Linked DNA regions of Homo sapiens: region 2 is linked to region 1. Evidence: fine-mapped expression QTL. A gene starts in region 1. The other region holds a variant in brackets. All regions are shown on one strand. Distances are from middle to middle. Region 1 holds the start of DUS2 (dihydrouridine synthase 2). Region 2 holds the start of DPEP2 (dipeptidase 2).

The links.
Region 2: its variant is fine-mapped to the expression of DUS2 in whole blood (TOPMed, PIP 0.92).

Annotation. Positions count from the first base shown.
Region 1 is chr16:68,018,795-68,028,771 of GRCh38, forward strand. It overlaps DUS2 (dihydrouridine synthase 2), which reads left to right and starts at 4,490. Exons shown (of 17, transcript NM_017803.5): 1 at 4,490-4,557; 2 at 6,621-6,700. DDX28 (DEAD-box helicase 28) reads right to left here and starts at 4,438. Exons shown (of 1, transcript NM_018380.4): 1 at 2,122-4,438. The coding sequence starts at 4,408. The coding sequence ends at 2,786. RefSeq lists enhancers at 3,139-3,889, 3,890-4,640, 4,351-4,590.
Region 2 is chr16:67,993,848-68,003,824 of GRCh38, forward strand. It overlaps DPEP2 (dipeptidase 2), which reads right to left and starts at 5,637. Exons shown (of 11, transcript NM_022355.4): 1 at 5,528-5,637. It also overlaps the pseudogene KARS1P3. RefSeq lists an enhancer at 4,060-4,576. The variant A/C (reference allele first, on the strand shown) is at 5,124.

The DNA.
Region 1 (9,977 bases):
AGTGCGAATGATGGTTCTATTTTTAAAATTTATTCTTTTTTCAGAAACAGGGTCTCATTTTGTCATCCAGGCTAGAATACAGTGGCACCATCATAGCTTACTGTAACCTGGAACTCCTGGCCTCAAGTGATCCTCTTGCCTTGGCCTCCCAAAGTGCTGAGATTATAGGAGTGAGATGTCACGTCTACAGATGAACCTATTTTAACATGAAATTCAAACAAATTCATGACAAGATAAGAATCCCAAATGACTGGCCAGGTGCCTTGGCTCATGTCTGTAATCCCAGCACTTTGGGAGGCTGAGGCAGGCGGGTCACTTGAGGCCAGGAGTTCACAACCAGCCTGGCCAACATGGCAAAACTCTGTCTCTACTAAAAATATAAAAACTAGCCGGGCATGGTGGTGTGCACCTCTAATCCCAGCTACTCAGGAGGCTGAGGCCCGAGAATTGCTTGAACTTGGGAGGCAGAGGTTGCAGTGAGCCGAGATTGTGCCACTGCACTCCAGCCTGGGTGACAGAGTTAAGACTCTGTTTCAAAAAAAAAAAAAAAGATAACAATACAAAATCATAACCTTATCATTACACTGCCCTCTCTTTAAATAGGCAAACAATGACAATCTTATCACTATGAAAGGATGAGGTTTAGCTCCCAGCAGCAGCCCAGGTCAGCACTGTGGAGAGGTACCAAAAGGTCATTAGGGCCAGGCGTGGCGGCTCACACCTGTAATCCTAGCACTTTGCGAGGTGGAGGCAGGAGTATCTCTTGAGCCCAGGAATTTGAGACCAGCGTGGGTAACATAGCTAGACCTTGTGTCTATTTTTTTTATATTTAAAAAAAGGCGATTTGGTCCTACTCAAAGGAAACAGGCAACTCTGCCCTTAGCCTGATCAGGACCACACTAGGAGCAGCCTTTGGTTCAGTGTGGCCAAGAACTTCCTACCAAAGAGAGATGACCTTAAGGAGAGGTCTCCCTATTACTGGCCTTGAAAAAGCAAACATGGGACATTTATTTAGTGGGGTTATTGCAGAGGGGATATGCCCAGGAGGTAGAGACGGCCCGATCTTTGGAGACTGGGTCACCCCGGTTGAGAATCATAGCACCTTCTCTCATAAGTTGCTTTAGTGTGGTGCTAATTGATGGCCTGCAGGGAGTGGTAGGAGGTAAAATATCAAGGGGATGGTTCCTGGGAAGTCTGTTCTGGCAGGAGGGCTAGCATGAGATCACTCAGATTCTCCAAGGCTCTGGAGAGAGTACTTGTCCGGAAGCATCCCTCTTGTCTTGTGGGGGTACAAAGCCTTACAGGAATTTGCTGGGACTCTGGGAAAGGCAGTACAGCATAGACAAATGGTTTATCAATTTGGGAGGGCCCAAGTATCACCTGGGGGAGTTTACAAAGAGTATTCTCAGGTCAAACTTTAGAGAGCTTAATCCCATCTGGAGTGGGGCTCAGGATTCTGTTATTTTTTTTGAGACAGAATATCAGCTCTGTCACCCAGGCTGGAGTGCAGAAGTGCAATTTTGGCTCACTGAAACCTTCGCCTCCAGAATTCAAGCCATTCTTGTGCCTCAGCCTCCCAAGTATTTGGGATTACAGGCGTGCACCACCACATTCAGCTAATTTTTTTGTATTTTTAATAGAGATGGGGTTTCGCATGTTTACCAGGCTGGTCTTAAACTCCTGACCTCAGGTGATCCTCCTGCCTCAGCCTCCCAAAGTGCTGGCATTACAGGCGTGAGCCACCACACCCGGCTTTTTTTTTTTTTTTTTTTTGAGATGGAGTCTTGCTCTGTCCCCTAGGCTGGAGTGTAGTGGTATGATCTTGGCTCACTGCAACCTCCGCCTCCCAGGTTCAAGTGATTCTCCTGCCTCAGCCTCCCGAGTAGCTGGGACTACAGGCGCGTGCCACCACGCCGGGTTGATTTTTGTAATTTTTTTTTGTGTATATATATATATACACATATATATATACACGTATATATATATACACGTATATATATATATACATATATATATATACGTATATATATGTATGTGTATATATATATATACGTATGTATATATATATATATATATATATATATACGTATATATATATATAAAGAAAATGCTATATGGTTATTTTTCCAGTTTTGTAAAACCGTTTAATCATCTCTCCTCTTTCTCGGCTACCGAGTTGGGATAGAAGGCAGAACCTGAAAATGTACAAGCAAAACTTCTGTGTTCGTCTACCCTTTACTTTTCTGCCAGTACCTTCCAGAGATTTCGCCAAGACGCCCGTTTGTCTTGGGCATTGTTAGAGAGTAACTCTGTCTACTGCTAGTCACATTTCCTTTCCTTTCCTTTCCCTGGGGGCTTAATGGATACCTTTTTGGGGGCAGGAAATACAAACTAAATGTTTATAAATGAAAACATCAACTGAAAGAGCCTTTGTCCTAGATGTGGAGGTTTGGTGTATGAATCCTCAGAAACTACTGAATTCCGCCCCGGTGCTAATTATTCTTAGGGGAGGCACATAAAAACATCATTTATTGTTAGAAATCATGACATGATACAAAGTCAAAATCCACTTGTGTCTTGCTAAAGACTACAGAAAGCCATGCTCAGCAGCTTCTTCTCCAATGCTGGCCAGCAGCGTACCTTTCCAAGTCACAAAGCAGTTCATCCCGCCCTCAAGGAGCCGACAGGGCAGCCCAGAGCCTCCCACTGACAAGTGTGGTCACCCACTCAAGATACTGGGAAAGATCCCTGTTCTAGCATCACATTTTAATCAGATTTGTCAAAATCAGGTTGCTTGGGGCAAAGGCTCTTTCACCGAGGATGCTAGTCCTGGAAGACTTCTCCTTCGGCGAGCCGCCAGCTCAATCTTCTGAACCAGGCTCACATCCCAGGGATGGGTCACAAAACTGATGACGGTGCCTGGCACCTCGCTCCCCACACGGCCCACTCTCCCTGCTCTGTGGATGTAATCTTGCAGCGTTGGGGGGAAATCATAATTGACAACCAGCTCCACACCAGTGCTGTCCAGGCCCCGAGAGGCTATGTCTGTGCAGAGAAGTATGTCTCGGGAGCTCTTCTGGAAGGACTGGAAGATTCCTACCCTCATCAAGGCTGGCATTTGCCCCTGCAACCTTAGGTGTTGGATTTTGTGGTCATCCAGAATATATCCCAGCCAGTTCACAGTGCTGGAGCTATTACAGAACACCAGAACAGTTCCTGAGGGACCAGTCCTTTCTGCTCTGTCACGATGCTTGAGGATGTGCACCAGCTCGGCCACCTTATCTGCTCCCTTCAGTCTCAGAAATGTCTGTTTCACATGAGGCATGATACAGTGGAGCTTGGAGCTGGTGATGGTGGTGACAGCATCTGGGCTGGCGACTTTATTCAGCAACTGGCCTACACCTTCGGGAAATGTGGCTCCTACCAGCACTAACTGAGCTTTGGGATTGAAGGGGTCTTCCAAGTCAGCTGGGCCTTCTGCTATGTGGCTCTTCTCTAAGATGTAGTCCACCAGTTCCAGGAAGCTTTCATCCAGCAGTGTGTCTGCCTCATCCAACACCAAGAAGGAGAGTTGCTCCAGACTGATCAGTCGACTTTTCAGGGCCTTCCACAGAGCCCCTGGAGTGGCCACAAGCACATCTGCTGAAGGCTGTCTGGACAGCTGCAGCCTGATCCTACGCATGCCGTGGCCTCCCTCCAGGTCCCGCACCAGCAGGCCCAAGGAGCGGCCCAAGGGTTGGGCCACAGCCCGCACCTGTTGGGCCAATTCTCGGGAAGGAACAAGGACCAGGCCTCGGGGCGCGGGGATAGGAAGGGAGTCCAGGCTTGGCTGGCCCAAGAGCCGTTGAAGCAGCGGCAGGAGGTAGCTGAGAGTCTTGCCACTGCCGGTTTCTGCGGCGCAAACGACATGGCGGCCGCGAAGTAGTGAGGGGATGGTGCTAGACTGCACGGTTGTGGGCTGAACGACTTCAGGCGCAGCCTCCTGTAGTGCGTGCAGCACACGGGGCTCCAGGCCCAGGTCAGCAAAGCTGCCCTTAGACGAGAGCTTTCGCACCGCTGGCGCCTCCTGTTGCGCGCGCTCGATGGAGAAGTGGTCCCGACGCGCGCGTCGACTCTTCCAGCCTTGAGAGGCTAGCGGCGCGCGCTCCCAACGGCCCAGTGTGAGGCGCGCCGGCTGGTTCAACTCCGGCCGCCGCGCCGAAACCAGCAGCGGTCCGGGTCGAACCAGCACCGGCCTCGGGAGGTTCCGCCGCCTGCTCTGCCGCTGTTCCAACTGCCGCTGTAGAGCCACTGGGATGCGCACCACCGGCAGGGGTTCGTCGGGACTGCGGACCGTGAGGCCCCGTCGCGGCGCCAGGAGCAACCGAGTCACGAGGGAAAAGAGCCGCACCGGCCGCGTTAGAGCCATGTTTCCCTTAGTGCGGGAGAAGCGCACATCAGTGACGTCACGGACGCGCCGCGACCTCGCGTACGGTGGCTGGCGAGGCTCAGTACGGTGTGTGGAGCTGGAGCACCGTGAGGAAGAAGCGAGGTTCTTTTTAAGAGTTCAGCTGCGAGGTCTGTAGCTCCGAATAGGGGATGGCGACATCCAGACCCGGCCAGCCTTGGGGAAGGGCGCGTCGTGGAGGCAGGACTGGAGGCTGGCGATACGAGGCGGCAGTGGGGCCTTGACCCAATGGACCATGAGGGCGGAGGGCTTCTGGCGATTGGTTACCTGGTTCCTGGGATTCTCTTTAGTTGTTCCTCATTGCCCTGAGATAGCTTGTCCCGTGCTGGTATCCGAGGTTGCAGCTGTTTTCCCAGATGTGTTCCCTGCGCAGGGTCTGGTAATCCGTGTTTATTGAGAGTTTGAATGAATGATCAGGCCTAGGGGCCGAGACAGGGGTCTGAAGTCATAGATCTGGGCTCAACCCCTCACCCTCTCTGTCTGTGAGCCCAGAGTGCAAGCTGATGGCTTTCAGCTTCTTCTCTCTCTCAAGTGGGAGATAAGGTCTTCAGGTTTTATTTCAAGTTGGGTCATCTTTTCTTCACAGTTATTTTCCTTCCTTTTAAGCCAAGGTTCACTCTCTACTCCCTCGTCACGCGTCCCAACTTCTCATCCAGAACCCACCCCTCTTGCAGCCCGCTCAGCTCCACTGGCTTCCCCGTCAGAAACCTGAATTACCTAAAATAGTAGTAAGAAGGGTGCTGCGACCCTACAAAGTGATCAAGTACGTGGCTTATCATGTAGCCCTGGTCAGGCAGAATATTTTACCTGAATTCAGATATTCGGGTTGTAAAAACAAGAACTATACGAGTCACTTTTTTTTTTTTTTTTTCTGAGACACAGTCTCGTTCTGTCACCCAGGCTGGAGTGCAGTGGCGCAATCTCGGCTCACTGCAACCTCCACCTCCTGGGTTCAGGTGATTCTCCTGCCTCTGCCTCCCAAGTAGCTGAGACTACAGCCGTACACCACCCACGCCCGGCTAATTTTTTCTGTTTTTAGTAGAGACAGGGTTTCACTATGTAGGCCTGGCTGGTCTCGAACTCCTGGCCTCAAGCGATCTTCCCACCTCGGCCTCCCAAAGTGATGGGATTATAAGCGTGAGCCACCATGCCCAACAGATACTTCTTGAACAGATCTGGAAAATGGGTGTCAGATCTTTTCTGTAATTTGCAGTGCCTGGGGTGGGAGATAAGGTAAATATTTATGGATTAACTCTCTGGGAGGTTCGTAACATCTGGAGAAAACGTTTTAGTTTCATCAAATACCAATGAAAAGATAAAAACTTTGCTTTTTTTGGAATAGTATGAGGAAAAACTTTCACAATTTTAAGTACACTCTACCCTTGTGCTACACAATTAGACTTTCTGGAGAGTTACCAGATAAATCAGAGGAAGAGAGGCTTTTTTTCTCCACAAGAAAATATCTGGAAGTAGGAAGAGAAAGTTTTGAGTAGTGATGGGTGAATGAACAGTCATTGGATAGGGTAGTGGTTCTAAAACAAGGGTGATTTTGCCCTTTCCCTCCCACCATATTTGACAATGGCTGGATACTTTTTTTTTTTTTTTTTTTATAGACAGTCTCACTGTGTTGCCCAGGCTGGAGTACAGTGGTGCGATGTCAGCTCACTGCAGTCTCTGCCTTCTGGGTTCAAGGGATTCTCCTGCATCAGCCATCTGAGTAGCTGGGATTAGAGGTGTGCGCTACCACTCCCAGCTAATTTTTGTATTTTTAATAGAGACAGGGTTTCACTACGTTGGGCAGGCTGGTCTCAAACTCCTGACCTCATGATTTGCCCACCTTGGTCTCCCAAAGTGCTGAGATTACAGGTGTGAGCCGCTGTGCCCGGCCCAATTCTATGCTACTTTTATGATTCTTTCCAAACTCAGGGCTTCTCCTTATCCAAATAGTTCCTTGGGGCCAGGCTCATGCCTGTAATCCCAGCTACTCGGGAGGCTGAGGCAGGATAATCGTTTGAACCCGGGAGGCGGAGGTTGTTGCAGTGAGCCGAGATCGCACCATTGCACTCCAGCCTGGGCGACAGGGCGAGACTCTGTCTCAAAAAAAAAAAAAAAAGGTCCCTTGGATGTTTGTCCCAACAGGTTTCATCCATTTCCATGTGCCACTGTTTTTCAGATATCAAACAAAGAATTACTCTGTACAAAGCCAGAACACATATATCAAAGTAATCCTGAAGTATCAGAACAAAATAATAGGTATGTATATGCATTTGGGTTTTTGGGTTTTGTTCAAATATCCAGGGTAGGGTAGCTGGTTAATATATAGTTGTTTTCTCATTATGCTTGAGTCCTTACAATATGATTACCTCAAAATTTCACAGGAGTTAGAGCTTGCCTAAGCCTGTCTGTGTCCGTGGCCACTAATTTCTTCTTGTCACATCACTAGACACTGCCTACCTTTTTTCCCCCTCACTCACAGAGGACATTGATTAACTTCTAAATGTTTTCTGAGATATTTTTATAAGTAGTGCTTTAGAAATAGGAAAGGTATCCTTATTGTGAAAAAAAATCTAAGCTCCTGAGATCAGGAGCTTGGTGTGTTCCTTGGATCTCAGTTAATAATGGTATATTCATTCATTCATTCAATCATTCATTCAACAAATACTTCCTGAGCACCACGCATGTGCCAGGCATTGGTAGTGAGGAAAACAGCCAAAATCCCTGCCCTTGTGGAGTTTACATTCTGATTTAATTGATTTGGGTTAAGGCCTAGACAAGGTCTTGCTCTGTCACCCAGGCTAGACTTCAGTGGTGCCATCTCGACTCACTGTAACCTCTGCCTCCCAGGTTCAAGTGATTCTTCTGCCTCAGCCACCCCAGTAGGTGGGATTACAGGCACGTGCTACCAAACCCGGCTAATTTCTGTATTTTTAGTAGAGATGAGGTTTTGCCATTTTGACCAGGCTGATCTCGAACTCCTGACCTCAGTTGATCTGCCTGCCTTGGCCTCCCGAAGTGCTGGGATTACAGATGTGAGCCATTGTGCCCAGCCGAGAAATTGGTATTTTTAGAAACCTCTCCAGATGTAACTAGGCTTGAGAATCACAGTTATAAATGAAGCACTTTGGGAATTGCAAAGCATTACAGCAATAAAAAGTGCTATTGGTATTACTTTATTGTTCCTCCATTTTCCCACCTGTAGCAGGGCTGTGCGCAGGTAATCATATTTTCAGTCATTATCACTATAGTATTCCTGGACCCTTTGACCTTCCTTCTCATCCAGCTCCCTACCTGCTCTTTGTTTTTTACCCTCTGGTCTACCTTCTGTTTCCCGAGTGATGTTATTAAAGCACAGCTAGGCCTGGTGTGGTGGCTCACGCCTGTAATCCCAGCACTTTGAGAGGCCAAGGCGGGCAGATCACGAGGTCAGGAGTTCAAGACCAGTCTGGCAAACGTGGTGAAACCCTTTCTTTACAAAAATACAAAAATTAGCTGAGCATGGTGGCAGGCACCTGTAATCCCAGCTACTCGGGAGGCTGAAGTGGAAGAATTGCTTGAACCCGGGAGGCGGAGGTTGCAGTGACCTGAGATTGTGCCATTGCATTCCAGACTGGGTGATAGAGCAAGAGTCTATCTGAAAAAAAAAAAAAAAAAAAAAGCACAGCTATGGCCATGTTACCCTTTGACTCAAAAGCCATTCATGAATCCTTGTTGCCTGCAGATTATTTCCTAATCAGTATCCAGAATTGGGCTCAACCTCTTCTGTTGCTTTCTTATGTGAATCTTGTTCACTCAAGTGATGGCTCCATGCAAGTTGGCCAAAGGGCTTGTAGTCCTTTACTGGGTAAGCCAGAGATTGGAGTAGTCATTCGTCTCCTCTAAAACCAAACTTGAGTGATAACAAAGCACTTTAAATGCACTTTGGCTGGGATAGAGTTCTTCTGTGACTGAAGCATGGAGTGGATCATAGCTCTTGTTGCACTTGGTCCATTAACTTCTTGTTTTTTTTTTTTTTTGGAGATGGAGTTTTGCTCTTGTTGCCCAGGCTAGAGTGCAGTGGCATGATCTCAGCTTACTGTGACCTCCGCCTCCCGGGTTCAAGTGATTCTCTTGCCTCAGCCTCCCAAGTAGCTGGGATTACAGGCATGCGCCACCACACCCGGCTAATTTTGTATTTTTAGTAGAGACGTGGTTTCTCCATGTTGGTCAGGCTGGTCTGGTCTCAAACTCCCGACTTTAGGTAATCCGCCTGCCTTGGCCTCCCAAAGTGCTGGGATTACAGGCGTGAGCCACCTCACCCGGCTGCCATTAACTTCTTTTTACAGCAAACACTAAGCATCTACCATATGCCAGATTGTATGCTCTCTGATGAGGATCTGGTGATGAACAAGCCACAGTGCCTATTTTCACCTTACAGTGAAGAAGGCATATTGACAGATAGTTGCTCTTCTATTAATAGTTGCCAGGATAGCTCCATGCCAGGACAGGAATGAGCTCAGAGATGCCTTTACCCTGTTTTGGGAGATGTTGGTCAGAGAAGGCTTCCAGGAGGAGGTGATGAGGTTCTAAAAGTCTACAGGGAGTCAGCCAGGTGGAAGAATAGGGACGTGGCCCCTGGGCAGGGACAGCTTGTTCAGAGATCCCATACTGAGAGAGAGCAGGCCAGGCTGGGGAACTAGAAATATTTAAGAATAGCTGAAGCTTAGCATGGGGGAGTTCTGAGGGCAGGAGGCAGGTGATGAAAGAGGCTTCTATGGAAGGTGGAGACCAGACCTTATATTTACTGTGTTAAAGAGTGTAGACTTAATTTTACAGGCAGTAGGGAAGGCGTCCAGAAATGGAACTATCATGTTTTGCGTATCATATCTTTGCGTTTGGAAAGAGCCCTTTGGCTGGAAGGAGCATGGATTGGAAGTGATAAGCCTGGAGGCAGAGAGACTGGTTTGGAGACTGTTGTCATGGTTCAGTTGATAGATGATGGCAGTTGTAGAGCTGAGAAGCTCTTTGAGGTTAAGAGCTTAGTGCTTTCCGTGTCTTTATACCTCACACGCTGCCTTGATCTTAAAAGAGCTAGCAGATGTTTGTCGATATAACAACATAATAATAGACGTTAGAGGCCAGGCGCGGTGGCTCACACCTGTAATCCCAGCACTTTGGGAGGCCAAGGCGGGTGAATCACGAAGTCAGGAGTTTGAGACCAGTCTGGCCAACATGGTGAAACCCCATCCCTACTAAAAAAAAATACAAAAAATTAGCTGGGCGTGGTGGTGGGCACCTGTAATCCCAGCTACTCGAGAGGCTGAGGCAAGAGAATTGCTTGAACCCGGGAGGCGGAGGTTGCAGTGAGCTGAGATCACGCCACTGCACTCCATCCTGGGAGACAGTAGGAGACTCCGTCTCAAAACAAACAAACAAACAAAAAATAGAGTGTTGAAACCGTGAAAGCATGATGAGAGTGGCTAACATTTATTAAGCCTTTACTATGTGCTGAGAACTGTGGTACACCATGGAATTCACTCTTCACAGCATTTCC
Region 2 (9,977 bases), 25 kb before region 1:
CCTGACCTTCTCTCTCCCGTAACTTAGGCCCTCAAGCCTATACTCTGGGGAATCTCCCAGCTACTAGGACCTGTCAGGAGCACTCCTCCGCCCCCCGCCCCGACCGCACATTCTCCAATCAGCCTTAGGAAAGAGCTCCTTCCTAAGGAGCTGCCACACCTCCCCAGGACCCCAGTGGAGGGATGAGAGCGCAGCAAGCATCTGGCCACTGCCAGGGAACATTCACTCAACAGAGCAGGAACCCACACAGCCATCTGCATGGAAGGAAATGAAGTCTTGTCTAGGGCAGCAGAGTCCCCGGCCGCAGCACCTTCCTCCTAGAGCTTCTGGCTGATCTGCTGGCCAGGATACCTCCTACCTCCTTGAGGAAGCCCCGGCCTCGTCCAGGTCAGGAGTAAGGGGCCTGAGGAAAGCCCTGCCACCTGGGTTCTGCAGCCACACTCCTCTTATCTTGTGGCTCCTGTGGCTTGAGCTCTCACAGAAACCTCCAGGGCTGAGTCCCTTCCTTGACGACAGGCCCCACCCCATTCCCGGCCTGGGGCCCTCAACCTAGATGCCTCCTCCAGGAAGGACCCCCAACCACACAAGCACACAAGCTCACAATCACACAGGCACAGGGGATGTGCCCGCTCACAGAAGCCCCACGACCTGAGATCTTCCGGGACTGTGGCCAAACCCCTTCGTCCTCAGAGACCTTTGCCTCCTCCTGCCCCTCAGGCTCTCAAGACTCTGCTCTGAACCTTGGCACCCCTGGAACCGCTTCATTTTTTGGAGCCTCCCCCACGTGGCAGGGCTGATCAGTGCATGGGTAGTGTGACCTAAGCCTGACGACGACTAGAGATTCAAGAAGGCCTCCTAAAAAGAAAATGAACCAACTCTTCCAAAGGGACTGGAGGTCCCAAGCTACCCAGGAGGGGAAGTGATCCCAGCTTTGATGTATTTTAGGGACTGCACACTTGATGTTGCCCAGTGTCTGCTGTCCAGGAGGAAGGCAGATCGATGGCCGAGTGCTCGAGGTGGGTTAACTGTCACGTCTACTGCTGCCGAAGGGGGTCTTTTTTTGTTTGTTTTGAGACAGAGTCTCACTTTGTTGCCCAGGCTAGAGGGTAGTGGCACAATCTTGGCTCACTGCAATCTCCACCTCCTGGGTTCAAGCGATTCTTGTGCCTTAACTTCCCGAGTAGCTGGGACTACAGGCATGCGCCACCACGCCCGGCTAAATTTTGTTGTTTAGTAGAGATGGGGTTTTGCCATGTTGCCCAGGCTGGTCTCGAACTCCTGGTCTCAAGCAATCTGCCTGCCTCAGCCTCCCAAAATGCTGGGATTACTGGAGTGAGCTACCGCACCTGGGCTTTTTTTTTATTTTTTATTTATTTTTTTAATTAAAGACTGTCTTGCCTTCTTGCCCAGGCTGGTCTCAAACTTCTGGCTTCAAGTGATGATCTCACCTTGGCCTCCCAAAGTGCTGGGAGTATAGATGTGAGCCACTGTGCCCAGCCCTGCTGGAGGGTTCTATAGGGAGGCCCACTGCAGATGGTGAGTCCTCTTGGGCTCTGCTTCAGAGAACAGTAGGGCGTGTCCCAGATCTGGGTGGTTTGGGTACCCCAACACAGGCTTCCCTCCTTCTCTCCATCATCCACTGCTGGTCAGCAGCTCCCCACACCCACTGGAATAGTGAGAGGGAGGAGAAGCTCTTGGATTTGCTGGTCTCCAGGTCAAAGATGTGGTTTTGGGGATAAACAGTTTATTCTGAGAGCCCCAAGAGGTAAGGGGCATAAAGAATGAGGAACTGAACCTGATCATTATGTGTTATATGTATTGAAACATCACTATGGGTGGGGCGCAGTGACTCACACCCGTGATCCCAGCACTTTGGGAGGCCGAGGTGGGTGGATCATCTGAGGTCAGGAGTTCGAGACCAGCTTGGCCAACATGGGGAAACCCCATCTCTATTAAAAATACAAACATTAGCCGGGCTTGGTGGTGCGCGCCTGTAGTCCCAAATACCTGGGAGGCTGAGTTGGGAGAATCGTTTCAACCCAGGAGGCAGAGGTTGCAGTGAGCCGAGATTGGGCCACTGAACTTCAGCCTGGATGACAGAGCGAGACCCTGTCTCCCCCCGCCAAACAACAACAACAACAACAACAACAACAACAAAAATCACTATGTACCCCATGAATATGTGCAAATTATTATTATTATTGTTTTTGAGATAAGGTCTTGCTCTGTCACCCAGGCTGGACTGCAGTGGTGCAGTCTCAGCTCACTGCAGCCTTAACCTCTCAGGTTCAATCAATCCTCCCACTTCAGCCTCCCGAGTCTGGGACTACAGGTACTCGCCACCACACTCGGCTATTTTTTTTTTTTTTTTTAGAGACAGGGTCTCACTATATTGCCCAGGCTGGTCAATTATTATTTGTCAGTTTGAAAAATGTAAAAATAAGGAAGGGGTAGGTAGGAATAAATAAATAACAGCTGACAGAGTAGGTGAGGAGAATTCAACTTTTTGAATTTTTTTTCTTTTTTTTTTGAGACAAAGTTTTGCTCCTGTTGCCCAGGCTGGAGGGCAATGATGTGATCTTGGCGGGCAATGATGTGATCTTGGCTCACTGCAACCTCCACCTCCTGGGTTCAAGTGATTCTCCTGCCTCAGCCTCCCAAGTCACTGGAATTACAGGCATGTGCCACCACACCTGGCTAATTTTGTATTTTTTAGTAGAGATGGGGTTTCTCCATTTTGTTCAGGCTGGTCTTGAACTCCTGACCTCAGGTAATCCACCCACCACGGCCTCCCAAAGCGCTGGGATTATAGGTGTGAGCGACCGCACTCGGCCAACTTTTTGCATTTTTTTTTAAGCTTCTCTCCAGAGCCCGAATGTCTGACCTCCTGGGACTTGGGGTACCTGCTAGCTCAGCAGAGGCAGGCTGAGTTGAGCCAGTAAAAGTGAGCACTGTCTCTGTAGGAGATAAGCCAGACAACACAATTTTCCATGATATGCAACTTCAGTCCTCAAATGTGGCCTTGAGGGGACCATACAAAGCGAATCACAGACACACCCACACTTGTAGTTGCAGTGAGCATTATGATAACACCATAGCATTCCAGCCTGGGTGACAGGGCAAGACCCTGTCTGTAAAAAAATAGATAATGATATTATTATTATTATTATTATTATTATTATTATTATTATTATTATTTTCTGAGACAGAGTTTCATTCTTGTTGCCCAGGCTGGAGTGCAATGGTGCAATCTTGGCTCACTGCAATCTCTGCCTCCTGGGTTCAAGTGATTCTCCTGCCTCAGCCTCCCGAGTAGCTGAGATTACGGGCGCATGCCACCACTCCCGGCTAATTTTTGTATTTTTAGTAGAGATGGGGTTTTGCCATGTTGGCCAGGCTGGTCTCGAACTCCTGACCTCAGGTGATCCGCCTGCCTTGACCTCCCAAAGTGCTGGGATTACAGGCATGAGCCACCCCCGACCCTTGGCCAAATTTTTTATTTTTATATTTATTTGTTTATTTATTTTGAGATGGAATCTCGCTCTGTCGCCCAGGCTGGAGTGCAGTGGCACAATCTCGGCTCACTGCAAGCTCCGCCTCCCGGGTTCAGGCCATTCTCCTGCCGCAGCCTCCCGAGTAGCTGGGACTATAGGTGCCCGCCAACACGCCCGGCTAATTTTTTGTATTTTTAGTAGAGACGGGGTTTCACCGTGTTAGCCAGGATGGTCTTGATCTCCCGACCTCGTGATCCACTCACCTTGGCCTCCCAAAGTGCTAGGATTACAGGCATGAGCCACCGCGCCCAGCTCACATTTTTTAAAATGGAAGAAATAGGTATGGCTTTTCTGTAGGGAATGGGCTGGAGGCCAGGAGATCAGGAGGGGTAAGGAATGAAGGGGCCTGTAAGGGGGAGAAGCAGTGGGAACAGGAAGGAGACATTCCTGGGACATGTTTGGAAGTTGAACCCAGGATTTGGAGATGCTTTGAAGCAGGGTTGGTGGGAGACAGTAAGGAGGAATCAGCGGTGACACTTAAGGTCGGCTCTGGAGTCAGGCCCTGAGTTTCCCCGCCTCTGCCTTGTTTCCACTCTGCCCACTGCCAGCATCTAGCTAACTTAGACTGTAGCCTCTGACCCCAAATTATCCCTGTGCTCAGGTCTGTGCCACTGATATTGGCAGCTCCTAATGAGAGGTGACAGCGTGCTGCCAGTCCTCACAGCCCTCGCTCGCTCTCGGGGCCTCCTCTGCCTGGGCTCCCACTTTGGCGGCACTTGAAGAGCTCTTCAGCCCACCGCTGCACTGTAGGAGCCCCTTTCTGGGCTGGCCAAGGCCAGAGCCAGCTCCCTCAGCTTGCAGGGAGGTGTGGAGGGAGAGGCGCGAGTGGGAACCGGGGCTGCGAGCGGCGCTTGCGGGCCAGCTGGAGTTTCGGGTGGGCGTGGGCTTGGCGGGCCCGCACTCGGAGCGGCCCGCGGGCCCTGCTGGCCCCGGGCAATGAGGGGCTTGGCACCCGGGCCAGTGGCTGCGGAGGATGTACTGGGTCCCCCAGCAGTGCCAGCTCACAGGCGCTGCGCTCGACTTCTCACCGGGCCTTAGCTGCCTTCCCGGGGGGGCAGGGCTCGGGACCTGCAGCCCTCCATGCCTGAGCCTCCCACCCCCTCCATGGGCTCCTGTGCGGCCGGAGCCTCCCCGGTGAGCGCCGCCCCCTGCTCCACAGCGCCCAGTCCCATCGACCACCACAGGGCTGAGGAGTGCGGGCGCATGGCGCAGGACTGGCAGGCAGCTCCACCTGCATCCCTGGTGCGGGATCCACTGGGTGAAGCCAGTTGTGCTCCTGAGTCTGGTGGGGACGTGGACAATCTTTACGTCTAGCTCAGGATTGTAAATACACCAGTCGGCACTCAGTATCTAGCTCAAGGTTTGTAAACACACCAATCAGCACCCTGTGTCTAGCTCAGAGTTTGTGAATGCACCAACTGACACTCTGTATCTAGCTGCTCTGGTGGGGCCTTGGAGAACCTTTGTGTCGACACTCTGTATTTAGCTAATCTGGTGGCGACGTGGAGAACCTTTGTGTCTAGCTCAGGGATTGTAAACGCACCAATCAGCACCCTGTCAAAACAGACC[A/C]CTCGGCTCTACCAATCAGCAGGATGTGGGTGGGGCCAGATAAGAGAATAAAAGCAGGCTGCCTGAGCCCGCAGTGGCTACCTGTTCTGGTCCCCTTCCACACTGTGGAAGCTTTGTTCTTTTGCTCTTTGCAGTAAATCTTGCTACTGTTCACTCTTTGGGTCCATGCTGCTTTTATGAGCTTTAACACTCACCGCGAAGGTCTGCAGCTTCACTCCTGAAGCCAGCGAGACCACAAGCCCACTGGGAGGAACAAACGACTCCAGACGCACTGCCTTAAAAGCTGTAACACTCACCACGAAGGTCTGCAGCTTCACTCCTGAGCCAACAAGACCACAAACCCACCAGAAGGAAGAAACTCCAAACATCCAAACATCAAAAGAAACAAACTCCAGACGCGCTACCTTAAGAGCTGTAACACTCACTGCGAGGGTCTGCAGCTTCATTCTAGAACTCAGTGAGACCAAGAACCCACCAATTCCGGACACACTAAGACAAGATTTCACTAGTGTGTGCTGTTTCCCCTGCAAGGGGGAGGGCACAGAGATGGCTTTGGGTGAGGTTAGGGGGAGGATAGGCCTCCTGGTTGGCTAACACTTGTTTACTTCTGGGGCATGAGTGTTCATGTGAGCCCACGATGCCTGGCCTGTTCCTCTTTTAACAAAGTCTGGTAGGACATGGTGGCTCATGCCTGTAATCCCAGTAATTTGAAGGTCGAGGTGAGAGGATCTCTTGAAGCCGGAGGTTTGAGACCAGTCTAGGCAACATAATGAGAACTCTAAGAAAAAGGAAAAAAAAAAGTGGTGCATGCCTGTGGTTCCAGGTACTTACGAGGCTGAGGTGGGAGGTTCGCCTGAGCCCAGGAGTTTAAGGTTGCAGTGAGAGACGATGGCACCACTGCTCCCTAGCCTGGGCGACAGAGTGAGACCCCATCTCTAACAAAACGAAAACAAGATCCAATGCATCCTCCTGCCTGAAGTTCTTCCGTGGCTTCTCATTGCAGAAATCTACCGAATTTCTTTCTTTGGCTTTCAACTCATGGAGAGTCTGCTCTCACCAGCCTCTCCAGTCTCAGCAAATAGCACAAACTTTCCTGTCCTCCAAAATCTGGCCACCTCAGTGATGCTACGTCCCCCCATAGAGCCTTGGCACAACCTCAGCCTCCAATTGGTAGGGCTGTTGAGGCAAGGCCAGGATAGGAAATCTTGCTACCAGGAAGGAGTAGGTGGGTGAACAGCTTTTCCCTCTACTTCCTCTTCTATGCAGTGTTTGCATAAATCAAGACCTGCAGAGGAGGCAGCAGTAGAAACAGTTTGCTCCAAGGACCAAACTTATTCTGGTGTGCAGCTCACTCGCCCCTACTCATCTCCAGTGTATTTCAAGAGTATGCAGGGAAGGAAAAAGTCAGGCTGAGTTATAGCTGCACAGGCTGCCTCCCATGCTCAGAGCGCAGAGGTGGGGTGCAGCTGGGGCTTACTCAGTATCCAGCAGTGCCCAGATGATGATCATCTGCATCCAAGCCCCTCTGGTCCTGGAGACTCATGCTTCCCTTTGATGTCGCCCTGGATCTGCTCCCATGATGTCTGATACAGACAATTCCCAAGAAACAATAGTCTTCCAAGCCAGAAAGCAGCCTGGCCACTGTAGACAAACATCCTCCAATCACCAAGCTGAAGCCACCCTTCCTGAAACGTCAAATAGCTAACATAACATTTTTCTTCCACAAAAGGAAGTCAATGTTTATGTTTCTAGGAGAAGTGCAATAACCCCAAATGCATCTTTATCTCCTGAATGCATCTAGAACCTTCTGCTCAAGCCTTACCAACCAACCCCTACCCCGCCAGCCTCTCTGTCCAACATTCCTGGGGTGCTTTTTTTTTTTTTTTTTGGAGTGCGAGGGCACGATCTCGGCTCACTGCAACCTCCACCTTCCAGGTTCAAGCGATTCTCCTGCCTCAGCCTCCCAAGTACGTGGGATTACAGGCATGCACCACCAGGCTGGCTAATTTTTGTATTTTTTTTAGTAGAGATGGGGTTTCACCATGTTGATGAGGCTGGATTGTCTCGAACTCCTGACCTCGGGTGATCCACCAGCCTTGGCCTCTGAAAGTGCTGGGATTACAGGCATGAGCCACTGCGCCCGGCCTTTTTTCTTTTCTTTTTTTTTTTTTTTTTGAGACAGGATCTTGCTCTGTTGCCCAGGCTGGAGTGCAGTGGTGCCACTTTGGCTCACTGCAACCTCCGCCTCCCAGGTTCAAGCAATTCTCCAACCTCAGCCTCCCTAGTAGCTGGGGCTACAGGCATGCACCACCATGTCCAGCAAATTTTTGTATTTTTAGTAGAGACGGGATTTCACTACATTGGCCTTGAACTCCCGGCCTCAGGTGATCCACCCGCCTTGGACTCCCAAAGTGCTGGGATTACAGGCCTGAGCCACTGTGCCTGGCCCTGGGTTGCTTTCTGATGGAGACGATTGATGACTTGGGTCCCATGTGTACCATTGAGTTCCTCTTGCAGCTGGGTTCTGCCTGATTTCAGACAGTACAGAGGATCTGGGACAGAAGGCTGCATGCTATCCCATGTCCTTGAGGTAGTGCCATCAGCCGAGGGTGGGGAGGAGGCAGGAGGGCCCTGGGGTGCAGGAGCTGGATCCAGCAAGGCCATTAAAAGTATCTCAGGGGACAAGAGATGGTGGCTCATGCCTGTAATCCTAGCACTTTGGGAGGCCAAGGCATGAGGATTGCTTGAGGCCAGGAGTTCAAGACCAGCCTGGGAAACATGGTGAGACCCCTTCTCTACAAAAAAATTTTTTAAAAAGTAGCTGGTCATGGTGGCACATGTCTGTAGTCTCAGCTACTCAGGAGGCTGAGGTGGGAGAATTGCTTGAGCCCAGAAGTTAGAGGCCACAGTGAGCTATGGTCGCTCCACTGCATTCCAGCCTCTGGGAAAGAGCAAGACCCTGTCTTAAAAATAAAATACCTTTTCCGAAACATTTTTTGTAAGATTAAAAAAAGAGAAAAGAAGGAAGGAAGGAAGGAATAAAGAAAAGAAAAGAAAAAAATTTTAAAAGGTTGGGTATGGTGGCTCACGCCTGTAATCCTAGCACTTTGGGAGACCAAGGCAGGTGAATTGCTTGAGCTCAGGAGTTCGAGAGCAGCCTGGGCAACATGATGAAGCCCCGTCTTTATAAAAAATACAAAAATTAGCCAGGTGTGGCAGTGCACACCTGTAATCCCAGCTGCTTGGGAGGCTGAAGCAGGAGAATCGCTTGAACCCGGGAGGCGGAGGTTGCAGTGAGCTGAGATCGTGCCACTGCACTCCAGCCTGGGCAACAAGAGCGAAACTCTGTCTCAAAAAAAAAAAATTTCCTTTTAGAGACAGGGTCTCACTGTGTTGTTCACTGAAACTTCAAACTCCTGGGCTCAGGCAATCCTCCTGCCTCAGCCTTCCGAGTTGCTGGTGGAATCTGTGAGAAACATGGTGACTCGGTCAATAACCATGCCCCAGGCAGTTGTGGGGGACAGCCTGTATTCCATGGCGGCAACAAAGTTTTCATCTACGGACAGGGCCTCATCATCACCTGCGGCCTTAGCCTGTTCTTCAAAAAGCTGCCACTGCTGCATAGGATCATTTAGATCAGTGTAGGCATTGCTTATCGCTTTCTTTATGACAAATAGCTTAAAGCGCTGGGTCAGACCTTTTGAGTAGTGCCATTTAGCCAAAGGGCTCATTATCTGGGGGTGATCACAGATGAATGTAGAATTGTTGCAAATCACTTCCAGGAACTCCCCCAACAAGCTTGTCAAGGAGCCTGGCTGTGGTCCTAGGTGGAGGGCACGCAATAGCATTTGCACGCAGATATTATCAAGAATTTTGCCAATTGCTTCAGTTTCAAATAGGTTATTTTCTGGCAGCTTCACCCCCAGGGCTTTCTCAAGCTCTTCTATCATGCTGATTCTCCGGAAGGGTAGGGTGAAGTCAATATTGCAGGCTTATCCCTCTGGGACATCTGGGTAGTAGGTGACCTTGTAACTACCTGTATTATGCTTCACCATCCCTGGAACCATCTTCCCCGTGATTTCCGTGAGATTGTGATAGTCTAGGCCATGTAGAACTCAGGGGTGCTGAACTCAGGATTTTACGTCAAATCAATTCCTTCATTCCAGAACTGGAATGCAATTTCATAAACCTGGTCAATGCCACCAACCACTAGCATCTTATGGTAGAGTTCTAGAGTAGTTCATGTGCAGCTTGTTGTGATAAGTGATGAAAGGCTTGGTCATAGCTCCCCTGGGATGACGTTCATTCATGGGAGTTTCAAGCTCTAGGAATCCCAGCTCATCCAAGAAACTTTTTTTTTTTTTTTGAGATGGAGTTTTCTTGTTGCTCAGGCTGGAGTATAGTGGTGCAATCTTGGCTTACTGCAACCTCCACCTCCTGGGTTCAAGTAATTCTGCTTCAGCCTCCTGAGTAGCTAGGATTATAGGCACCTGCCACCACGCCCATCTAATTTTTGTATTTTTAGTAGAGGTGGGGTTTTACCATGTCGTCCAGACTGGTCTCGAACTCCTGACCTCAGGCAATCTGCCTGCCTTGGCCTCCCAAAGTGCTGGGATTACAGGCGTGAGCCACTGCACCTGGCCTAAGAAACTTATTATACATGTGATGATCTTACAGCAGATGATAAATTTCTGCCTCATTCATTCAGGATCAAGTCCAAGTATCTCTGACCATACCTTATTTCCTTGTCTTTGAGGCCAAAGTGAAGATGAGGTAACATATACAAGCAAGGCCACAGCAGTGTGATCTCATAGGGAATGAAGCTCAGCTCATCCTTCTTGGTTTTTCCCAGGA